Regions from separate parts of the Homo sapiens genome. Here region 1 is linked to region 2. The links come from fine-mapping of genetic effects on plasma protein levels. A gene starts in region 2. The other region holds a variant in brackets. All regions are shown on one strand. Distances are between the middles of the regions. Region 1 has its middle 15 kb from the start of RETN. Region 2 holds the start of MCEMP1 (mast cell expressed membrane protein 1).

The links. PIP is the posterior inclusion probability: the model's chance that the variant is causal. The UK Biobank Pharma Proteomics Project read protein levels with antibody pairs (Olink). The fine-mapping took linkage between variants from a reference panel, not from the people measured, so its PIPs are less certain.
Region 1: its variant is fine-mapped to the plasma level of the MCEMP1 protein (UK Biobank, PIP above 0.99).

The regions. Positions count from the first base shown.
Region 1 is chr19:7,651,252-7,656,627 of GRCh38, reverse strand. No RefSeq gene overlaps it. Among named protein-coding and RNA genes, the nearest start is that of RETN, 15 kb to the left of the region's middle. The variant C/T (reference allele first, on the strand shown) is at 2,145.
Region 2 is chr19:7,674,697-7,680,072 of GRCh38, reverse strand. It overlaps MCEMP1 (mast cell expressed membrane protein 1), which reads right to left and starts at 2,983. Exons shown (of 7, transcript NM_174918.3): 1 at 2,898-2,983; 2 at 2,347-2,436; 3 at 1,832-1,969; 4 at 1,673-1,723; 5 at 1,469-1,582; 6 at 1,090-1,149; 7 at 244-975. The coding sequence starts at 2,952. The coding sequence ends at 959. RefSeq lists an enhancer at 1,947-2,016.

The sequences.
Region 1 (5,376 bases), 23 kb after region 2:
CTGCAGGGCAGTGGGACAATCTCAGCTCACTGCAACCTCTGCCTCCCAGGCTCAAGCGATTCTCCTGCCTCAGCCTCCTGAGTAGCTGGGATTACAGACATCCACCACCATTTCCAGCTAATTTTTGTATTTTTAGTAGAGGTGAGGTTTCACCTTTTTGGTCAGGCTGGTCTCCAACTCCCAAGCTCAGGTGATCTGCCCACCTCAGCCTCCCAAAGTGCTGGGATTACAGTTGCGAGCCACCACGCCTGGACTGCTCTTCATTCTTTTTTCAGAACTTTCCCAGCTGCCAACAGAGACAGAAACTGAATCATCTCAGAAGTGAATGAAGGAGGCTGAGGGCGGGTGGACTGCTTGATTAGGAGTTCGAGATTTGCCTAGGCAACATGGAAAAAGCCTGTCTCTGCTAAAAATACAAAAATTAGCCGGGCGTGGTGGCACATGCCTGTAATGCCAGCTGCTTGGGAGGCTGAGGCAGGAGAATCACTTGAACCCGGGAGGCAGAGGCTGCAGCGAGCCGAGATCGCGCCACTGCACTCCAGCCTAGGTAACAGGGCGAGACTCCGCCTCAAAAAAAAAAGAAGGGAATGAAGGACACCCAAAATGGAGCCTCTGTCTGCCAGGGCTTTGCTATCCTGGCCTGCCTATCCCAGCCCTGGACACCTCATCTCTGATCCCACCAGAGCGGAACCTTCCCATTCGCAGGGCCATTTCCTTACCCAGAAACCTTTTCACAATGTTCTTGGCAGCAGCTGTTGGTCAACTGTGTTTTAAGGTTTTTGAGCAACTTTACAGAAAATAAAAGGGAAGCTACCCTCAATGTCTGGGTCTCCCCCTGGGTGGCCTCTCTTTGTCACCTTACTCATTTCCACGAGATTTCCTTGCTTCGTTGAGTTACATCACCTCCTTTTCCTGTCTGGGTCCAGGACGCCTCCTCTGCAGGTCTCCAGCACTGATTCCTTTGTCCCCGATTTCTCTGCTAGGGTCGCTGGCTTCACCATCCCACCACCACTGCTGCTGGCCCAGCCCGCAGCTTTAATTTCTCTGGACCCTCACGTTTTTGTTATTTGTGTTTTTTTTGGAGATGAGGTCTTGCTCTGTCACCCAGGCTGGAGTGCAGTGGTGCAATCACAGCTCACTGTAGCCTCCACCTCCCAGACTCAAGTGATCTTCCTGCCTCAGCCTCCCAAGTAGCTGGGTGTGTGCCACCAGGTGCAGCTACATTTTTTGTAGAGGCAGGGGTCTTGCTATATTGCCCAGGCTGGTCTCAAACTCCCAGCTTTAGATGATCCTTTCACCTCGGCCTCCCAGAGTGCTGGGATTACCAGCATGAGCCACTGCACCCGTCCTCTCATGTATTTTTTATTAATCGATTTATCTATTTACTTATTTTGAGACAGAGTCTTGCTGTACCACCCAGGCTGGAGTGCAGTGGCATGATCTCGGCCCACTGCAACCTCCACTCCCTGGGTTCAAGTGATTCTCCTGCCTCAGCCTCCCGAGTAGCTGGGATTACAGGTGCCCGCCACCATGCCTGGCTAATTTTTGTATTTTTAGTAGTGACGAGGTTTCACCGTGTTGGCCAGGCTGGTCTCGAATTCCTGACCTCAGGTGATCCACCCAACTCGGCCTCCCAAAGTGCTGGGATTACAGGCGTGAGCCACCGCACTCGGCCTCCCTCATGTATTTTTAAGCGGAACAGGTTCAAGATCACAAATGTTTTCCTCTCACTCTTTCAATGAGTTTCTATTCTAGAATCTCCTGCACGCCACAGGAAGGAGAACTCTCACCCTGTAATGCACATAAATACATGAGATCACCATTGTTCTCACCCAGTAATCAGAATCGTTAGTGATAATTAGTAATAAATTTATTTTTACTATATCTAATAAATTAGATAGTAATTACTATGGCAGCCAATCGTTCCTGGGTGCTCCCTAGATGCTTCCAAGGGAGCCACACGTGACCCTCAGGGCTGTGCCCATTCCAGGCTCTTCTGCTGAGCTCATGTAACCGCTTGCCTCAAGGCATTCCACAAATAATACATAAGTCAATGTATCACGTTGTCACTTTCTGTACAAACCAGCTAGTTCCGGAGGGAAGCAGAAAGCCTTTTTCAGAAGAACCACAGCTAATTCCAGTAG[C/T]AGGAATGATAAAGTTGGACATAATCCTCAAGAGAGTAATGAATCAAAAATGGATGGCGGGCCAGGCACGGTGGCTGATGCCTGTAATCCCAGCACTTTAGGAGGATGAGGCAGGTGAATCATTTGAGGTCAGGAGTTCAAGACCAGCTTGGCCACCATGGTGAGACCCCGTCTCTACTAAAAATACAAAAATTAGCCTGGCATGGTGGCTCATGCTTGTAGTCCCAGCTTCTTGGGAGGCTGAGGCAGGAGAATTGATTGAACCCTGGAGGTGGAGATTGCAGTGAGCCAAGATTGCATCACTGCACTCCAGCCTGGGCAACAAGAGCGAAACTCTATCTCAAAAACAAACAAACAAACAATAACAACAACAAAATTGATGGCTGCTAATGACTTTTTTTCTTTTCTTTCCTTTTTTATTTTTATTTTTTATGAGACAGGGTCTCACTCTATCGCCCAAACTGGAGTGCAGTGCCGAGATCATAACTCAGTGCAGCCTCAACCTCTTGGACTCAAGTGATCTTCCCACCTCAGCCTCCCATGTAGCTGGGACTACAAGCAATTGCTGCCACATCTGGCTAATTATTTTATTTTGTTGTATTTTATTTATTTATTTTTTGAGACAGAGTCTTACTCTGTCACCCAGGCTGGAGTGCAATGGCATGATCTCAGCTCACTGCAACCTCCGCCTCCTGGATTCAAGTTATTCTCCTACCTCAGCTTCCTGAGTAGCTGGGATAACAGGTGTGCACCACCACGCCTGGTTAATTTTTGGTTTTTTGGTAGAGACGGGGTTTCATCATGTTGGCCAGGCTGGTCTTGAACTCCTGACCTCAAGTGATCCGCCCATCTCAGCCTCCCAAAGTGCTGGGATTACAGGTATGAGCCACCGTGCCCGGTCTTTATTTTATTTTTAGTAGAGACAGGGTTTTGCTATGTTGCCCAGGCTGGTCTCAAACTCCTGGGCCTAAGTGATCCTCCTGCCTTGGCCTCCCAAAGTGCTGGGAACTACAGGCGTGAGCCACTGGGCCCAGCTCCTGTTAACATCTTTATGTGGAGAGTTACTGGGGACCAGGGACATTCCCCAAACCCACCCATCAATCGTAGTGACATGACGTTATGGACCCCCTGATGTGATGTACCAGGAAGTACCCGGCCCTACCAGCATGATATTATTCTGGCTGCAACTGACCCTTATTCCAATAGAGCATGTGGTTCTAAGCCATTTATAGGGTAAACATTGGGGCAGGGATGGGGAGAGAGGAAGCAACCTGCCAAATCCAGAATGAGGATCATTCCTCGGTACCAGAAGAGAACCAGAAAGAAAGCACCCTAAGTGGGGATACCACAAGGAAGTAAAGCAGGGGCCTCTCCCAGCTGGGGAAGGGAAGGAGGAAGGAGTACAATAGCTTGCAAGGCACAGCATTGCGGATGATGGGAATAGCAGGTGCAAAGGTTCTGGGGCAGGGACAGTGTGGTGTGTTTGAAGAACAGCAGCCAGGTTCACCATGAGATGGGAAATGGACTTGGGGGAAGGGATCTCAAAGGATAATTTTTTTTTTTTTTTTGAGACAGGGTTTCGCTCTTGTTGCCCAGGCTGGAGTGCAGTGGCATGATGGCTCACTGCAACCTCTGCCTTCCGGTTTCAAGCGATTCTCCTGCCTCAGCCTCCCGAGTAGCTGGGATTACAGGCGCCCACCACCACGCCCGGCTAATTTTTGTATTTTTAGTAGAGACAGGGTTTCACCATGTTGGCTAGACTGGTCTTGAACTCCTGACCTCGTGATCCGCCCGCCTCGGCCTCCCAAAGTGCTGGGATTACAGACGTGAGCCACCGCGCCCGGCCCCCCAACTTTTTTTTTGTTTTTAACACAACTTCTCGCTTTCTCACCCAGGCTGGAGGGCAGAGGCACAATCATAGCTCACTGCAGCCTCGAACTCCTAGGCTCCAGCGATCCTCACAGGAGGGTTTTGAGGATCTGCATAAAGCGTGCAGAGGGAGCTTGACTTCGTGCTCGTTAGGACCCGATATTGTCAGCTGCCGCCGCCCACAGGGACACATAAATATTTGTAGACTCAATATTTGCCTTTAGTGTGAAGACATTGCATCACCTGGGTATAAGTAAGGAGCAGAGGCAGAGGCGGTTTAAGCAACAGACTTTTGTCTCCGCTGAGAACCACGGAATAACCCCTGACCTACTTCCCCGTCGTGTCTAATTCGGGTCACCTCATCTCCAGTTACAGACGCGGAAGATCAAAGAAACCGGGAAATTGCGCCGCAGCGCCCCCTGGCGTTCGCAGCGCGTGCCTACACAAGCCACTCCCGGCGCAAAACTGCGGCTTCCCAGGAAATTGAGTTTAAATGTTTTTTTTTCTTTTTTCTTAATCTAGAAAAGATCATTTATTGTATCAAGTAACTACCCAGTTAGGCGTGAATACATTTTAAAATTTTTATTAAAACGAGTATTGGCCGGGCGCGGTGGCTCACTCCTGTAATCCCAGCACTTTGGGAGGCCAAGGCAGGTGGATCACGGCGTCAGGAGTTCGAGACCATCCCGGCCAACATGGTGAAACCCCGTCTCTACTAAAAATACAAAAATTAGCTGGGCGTGGTGGCACGCACCTGTAGTCCCAGCTACTCGGGAGGCTGAGACAGAAGAATCGGTTGAACCGGGGAGGCGGAGGTTGCAGTGAGCTGAGATCATGCCACTGCACTCCAGCCTGGGCGACGGAGCGAGACTCCATCTCCAAAAAATAAATAAATAAATAAATATAATATAATATAAAATAAAATAAAAAGAGTATTGTAGAGATTGGCTGGGCACAGTGGCTCACACCTCTAATTCCTGCATTTTGGGAGGCTGAGGTGGGAGGTCTTCAGCCCAGGAGTTAGAGACCAGCCTGGCCAACATGGCAAAACCCCATCTCTACTAAAAGTACAAAAATTCGCTGGGCATGGTGTCGCACGTCTGTGATCCCAGCTTTTTGGGAGGCTGAGGCAGGAGAATCGCTTGAACCCAGGAGGCAGAGGTTACAGTGAATCGAGATCGCACCACTGCACTCCAGCCTGGGCAACAGAGTGAGACCTTGTCTCAAAAATACATATATTTAGGAATTTGCTATGTTGCCCAGGCTGGCCTCAAACTCCTGGCCTCAAGCAATCCTCCCACCTCGCCCTCCCAAAGTGCTGGGATTGCAGGCGTGAGCCACTGTGCCCGACCTTGAGCTTAAG
Region 2 (5,376 bases):
GGCTTGTATATATCCGTGGTCCCAGGTACACTCAGGGAGATGTTGTATGCTCAGGGGCACCCACTCTGGGACACAGGGAAGACACAGGGAATGAGTTACTCATTCACAGATGCACAGGTACTCACGCAGGGCACTCAGTCTCGCCCACCCTGGTGCCCCGGGGTCATTGTCACGTGCAGACTCTCCCTCTCCCCAGGTCCCAAAACCCCTCCCCTTGCCCCAGTAACAGGTCCCATAGCGACGCTGTTTTCCCTTGACTTTATTTATCTTCATAAGTCACAAAATGTGAGTGCAGAGATAAATGTCTGTGTGCATGTGCCCTGAGCACACAGGGTGGCATAACTCGGCACACTCATAATGACACAGCCGTTCACCCAGCCACAGATAGTGACAGGGCACACATGGCGACACCCACATGTACGGAGATAAATCTCCCCCACCATGACATGGGTAGACAGAAAACACGCCGCAGTATACTCTAGTATGTTTACACAAACAGGGAGACAGGCCCGTGCAATGCATGTCACCAACACCCACACTCAGAGTGACATCTGCTGGAGGTGCTCAGACACAGCCACCCACCGTGACATGCCGAGACTCACATATGTCACATGACACAGGCATGCATGCCACATTCACTGTGACTCTCAGTCCTATTCATTCATCACCTTTCTGGGAGATACACTGAAATGTCCACCCTTTGCAAAATGCACACACACGCGCACGCACACACGCACATACACGAACACACGCGCACACACGCACACACACGCACGCAGGTGTACACACACACGAGCAACTCCGAGACACTCATTCACCATGACTCGAGGTTTTTCTATACGTGGGACGAGGGGCAGGTTCACACTAGGCTGGGGGGGGGGGGTCATTTCCCGTCTTCGTTGGCAGGTGCAGCCCCATCTTCCAAGTTGTGGCTTTGGCTGCCACAATGTCCTCTCATTTATTGAGGTGAGGACTCTGGGGATGGGGAGAGACCCACAGTGAGGCAGATCCCGCCCCTGGGAGAGGAGCTGGGGCTAAATCTGAAGCCCCACCCACCCTCCTCCACCTCCTGTCGGGGCGCCAACTTACGTGGCATTTTCTGCAGCACCTCCAAGATTTTCTGTACCTTTGTGTCAATGTTTTTTATGCCTAGGGGGCGGGGAGGGTTGGGTGGGAACAGATAAGTCAAGCTGCGGTGGAGCCTCAAACAAAGCCCCCACCTTCCTTGGAAGCACCCCCCCTGCCCCACACCCACCCTGGGGTACAGCAGAGCCCATGGATTTGGGGTTCCCAGGAGCCTTTCAATACCCACAGAGCAACCCAGATGGTAACACCCATCGCCCCTCCACAACTTGAGCTTTGGGAGGGTAGGACCCCGGCTTTCTCCTCCCCTGAATCCCCTGCCCCCAGCTCAGCTCCGGGCATTGGTGACAAATAACCCCCATAGAAGGCGAGACTACACAGGCACCTGCTAATGTCGTCTCTAATCTATCAATCTTGCTCCTGACCATGGTGATGCTCTGCTGAACGGAATCCCAGCCTCTCTTCTGTCTCTCTTCGCATGCTTGTACGGAGTTTGAGACTGAGGGCATGAAACAGGGGTGTCTGTGCATCCATCCCTCTCCAGACCCCCACCATGACCCCACGGGTCTCCCTCAGACCCTCCGCTCACCATTCCAAAGCTCCCTTTTAAAGCCCAGCAGCTCCTTGGACATCTCAGCATCTGTTCAGGAGGGGCAGGAAAATCCTTGAAGCACCCAGGGAGAGAGAGAGAGAAGGACAAGGGAGAAAGTCTAGGCCCCCCAGCACCCTCCTCCCAAGAAGTACTCACTCTTCACCATGATGAAGGCTGACAGGATGATGCAGAGGACAAAGGCCAGGGCCAGGAGGATGTACAGGCTCAGGATGGCTCTGTACAACCAGCAGGGGACCTGGGTGGAGTCTGAGGGCGGCCTGCACTGGGCTGGGACTGGAGCAAAGAGGCAGCAAAGTGACCTTGAGGGGCCAGCACCACCACTCAAACCATCCTCACTGTCTCTAACACCATGGACACCTCGCTCCTCTCAAAACCATCAGCAGCTGTGGTCATGCAGCTTGTCATCATCGTCAACAACACTGCCACCACCAGCCACCCTCAGCGATCTAACACCGTCACCATCACAGACCCCCTCTCCAGCATTCCCCAACATTGTCATCATCAACAGACCTCATTAGCACGTCAACAGCTGTCACCTCTTCCTTCCCCATCGCTTCCTCCCTTCCACGCAGCCCCGGGGGCCCTGCAGTTGCCCGCCCACCTGCCCCTTCCCAAGGTGATGGGATGTGAGCAGGTGGGTGTCTGCTCACCTTGGCTCGTGGGTCGTGAATGACCACCCTTTGCATGGTCCTGATTTTTGAAGGCCAAGGTGATATTCTCATAGTCTGGGTCATGGGCACCTGGGAGGGGTTGGAGATCTGCTCAGAGCTCTGTGGTGTGGAGAGTGGATCCGGGATCTTGTTTTACCCAACCCTTTGCACTCAATAAATTGTAGGGGGTGAAAGATAAGGAGTGAGAAGCTAAAATCTGCTTTTTGGTTAAGTGGAGCGGGTGTGTGAGAGTTTGAGTGATCACACCACACACACATCCACACACACATCCACACATCTTGGAGGGGAAGGAGCCCCCGGCCCCCACCTTTGACCCCTTACCTCTCCCATCTGAACTCTCCTTCTTTTTTTATTTTTATTTTTTACAGACAGAGTCTCCCTATGTTGCCCAGGCCAGTCTCCACCTCCAGGGCTCACGCAATCCTCCCGCCTCAGCCTCCCAAAGTGCTAGGATTACAGACATGAGCAAAAGCCCCCGGCCCCCCAATCTCTCCTTCTTAACCCCTCCCTTCCACCTCGAGTTCCCTAACCTTGATTCTTGGCTGAGACCCCCTGTTTCTTGTCCCTGAAGGCTGGTGCTTGCATCTTGACTTCCTGGTGCTTGTAGATTTCCTCCACTTCCATGGTCCCCAGCCCGCAAATTTGTCCATACACGTCCCCGCCCACCGGAAGGTGTGGGCAGATGAGGAAATCTGGAGGTGGGGGGAAGAAAGAGGGGGAGCAGCCTCCTCTTTTCAGGGATCCACGACTCTCGCACCCTGGGGCACCCTCATTCCTGCCCCGATCAAGAGGCTCTTGGGAGCCAAGAGGTCTCAGGAAGGACCAAGAAGAAAAACCTCTAGACCGGGAGATGGAATTCGACACTCGGAAATGTTACAGGAAGCTGTGGTCTCTGTGTGTGTCTGTGTCTACCTGGATGGACCTCACCCTCCTACCTCCTCTCCATTTCAAAAGAGAAGCTGTGACACCTCAGTGTCCCAACTTTTCGCGTAAGAGCAACCAGGCTTGGAGACAGGACCCCTGGGTCCCCCCACACCTTCCTCCCTCCAGCCTCAGCTCCACCCCTCAGCTCCACCCCCAAGAAGTTCTTCTACTTCTACAAGTCCCCGTGGAGGAAAAGCACAGATGTGAGGCAACGGGAACTAACCACTGGAACGCCACACCCACATCTGGGACTGAGGACAGACCCACATCCTTCCCTCCCTCCCCAAATCCCCTGCTTTTATACAACCCTGGAGGAGGCTGGGTGCGGTGGCTCACGCCTGTAATCCCAGCACTCTGGGAGGCTGAGGTGGGTGGATCATCTGAGGTCAGGAGTTTGAAACCAGCCTGGCTAACATGGTGAAACCCCGTCTCTACTAAAAATACAAAAATTAGCTGGGCGTGGTGGCGAGCGCCTGTAATCCTAGCTACTCAGGAGGCTGAGGCAGGAGAATCGCTTAAACCTGGGAGGCGGAGGCTGCAGTGAGCGGAGATCACACCATTGCACTCCAGAATGGGTGACAAGAGGGAAACTCTGTCTCAAAAAAGAACCCTGGAGGAACAGTTTCCTCTGCACCTGGAAACTCCAGGTTTCTCATTCTCATCCATCCATCTGCTTATCTACCCAGATACTCTCTCTCACACATGTACACACACAGGTCTGCACACGGACACACATCACAAACTCATTTGCATACTATTTGCATTGTGACACTCAGAAAAATAGACACAAGCATGCGTTCACATGCCCGCACTCTGTCTAGAAGGTGTCTTAGTTCACTTTGTGTTTATCTGATCTTGAAAACTGGGGTTACAAAAGGCACAAAGTAGCTGGGTATGGTGGCTCGCTCTGTAGTCCCAGCTACCCAGGAGGCTGAGGTAGGAGGATCATTTGAGGCCAGGAGTTTGAGACCAGCGTGAGCAACATAGCAAGACCCTGTCTCTTTAAATGTTTTTTAATAATTTTTTTTTGAGACAGGGTTTCACTCTGTTGCCCAGGCCGGGGTGCAGCAGCGTGATCATGGCTCACTGCAGCTTTGACCTCCCTGGCTCAAGTAATCCTTCGTCCTCGGCTTCCCGAGTAGCTGAAATTACAGGTGGGCACGACTTCACCTGGCTAATTTTTCTCCTTTTTTGAGATGGAGTTTTGTGCTTGTCACCCAGGCTGGAGTGCAATGACGCTATCTCAGCTCACTGCAACCTCCGCATCCCAGGTTCAAGTCATTCTCCTGCCTCAGCCTCCCAAGTAGCTGGGATTACAGGCATGCACCACCACCCCCGGCTAATTTTGTATTTTTAGTAGAGACGGGGTTTCCCCATGTTGGTCAGGCTGGTCTCGAACTCCTGACTTCACGTGATCTACCCGCCTTGGCCTCCCAAAGTGCTGGGATTACAAGCATCAGCCACCGTGGCCCAGTCTAATTTTTCTTATTTTTTGTAGAGATGAGGGTCTCAATATGCCGTCCAGGCTGGTCTTGATCTCCTGGGTTCAACTGATCCTCCAGCCTTGGTCTCCCAAAGTGCTGGGATTACAGGCATACATTTTTATTTTTATTTTTTTCTGGCCAGGTGTGGTGGCTCACGCCTGTAATCACAGCACTTTGGGAGTCTGAGGCGGGCGGATCACCTGAGGTCAGGAGTTAGAGACACCAGCCTGACCAATATGATAAAACCCTGTCTCTACTAAAAATGCAAAAATTAACTGGGCGTGGTGGCAGGCGCCTGTAATCTCAGCCACTCGGGAGGCTGAGACAGGAGAATCACTTGAACCCGGGAGGTGGAGGTTGCAGTGAGCCGAGATCGCGCCATTGCACTCCAGCCTGGGCAACAAGAGCAAAACTCCGTCAAAAAAAAAAAAAAAAAAAGAAAAAAGAAGAAAGAAGAAAGAAGGAAGGAAGGAAGAAGAAAAGAAGAAAAAACAAGTATAAGACTGTCTTATGTGCAGAAAGTGATGATGTTTTGGTTAAAAATATGTGGTTAAATTTCAGACAACTTGAATGTTGAGAAATGAGCGTCGAGATCTGGTGA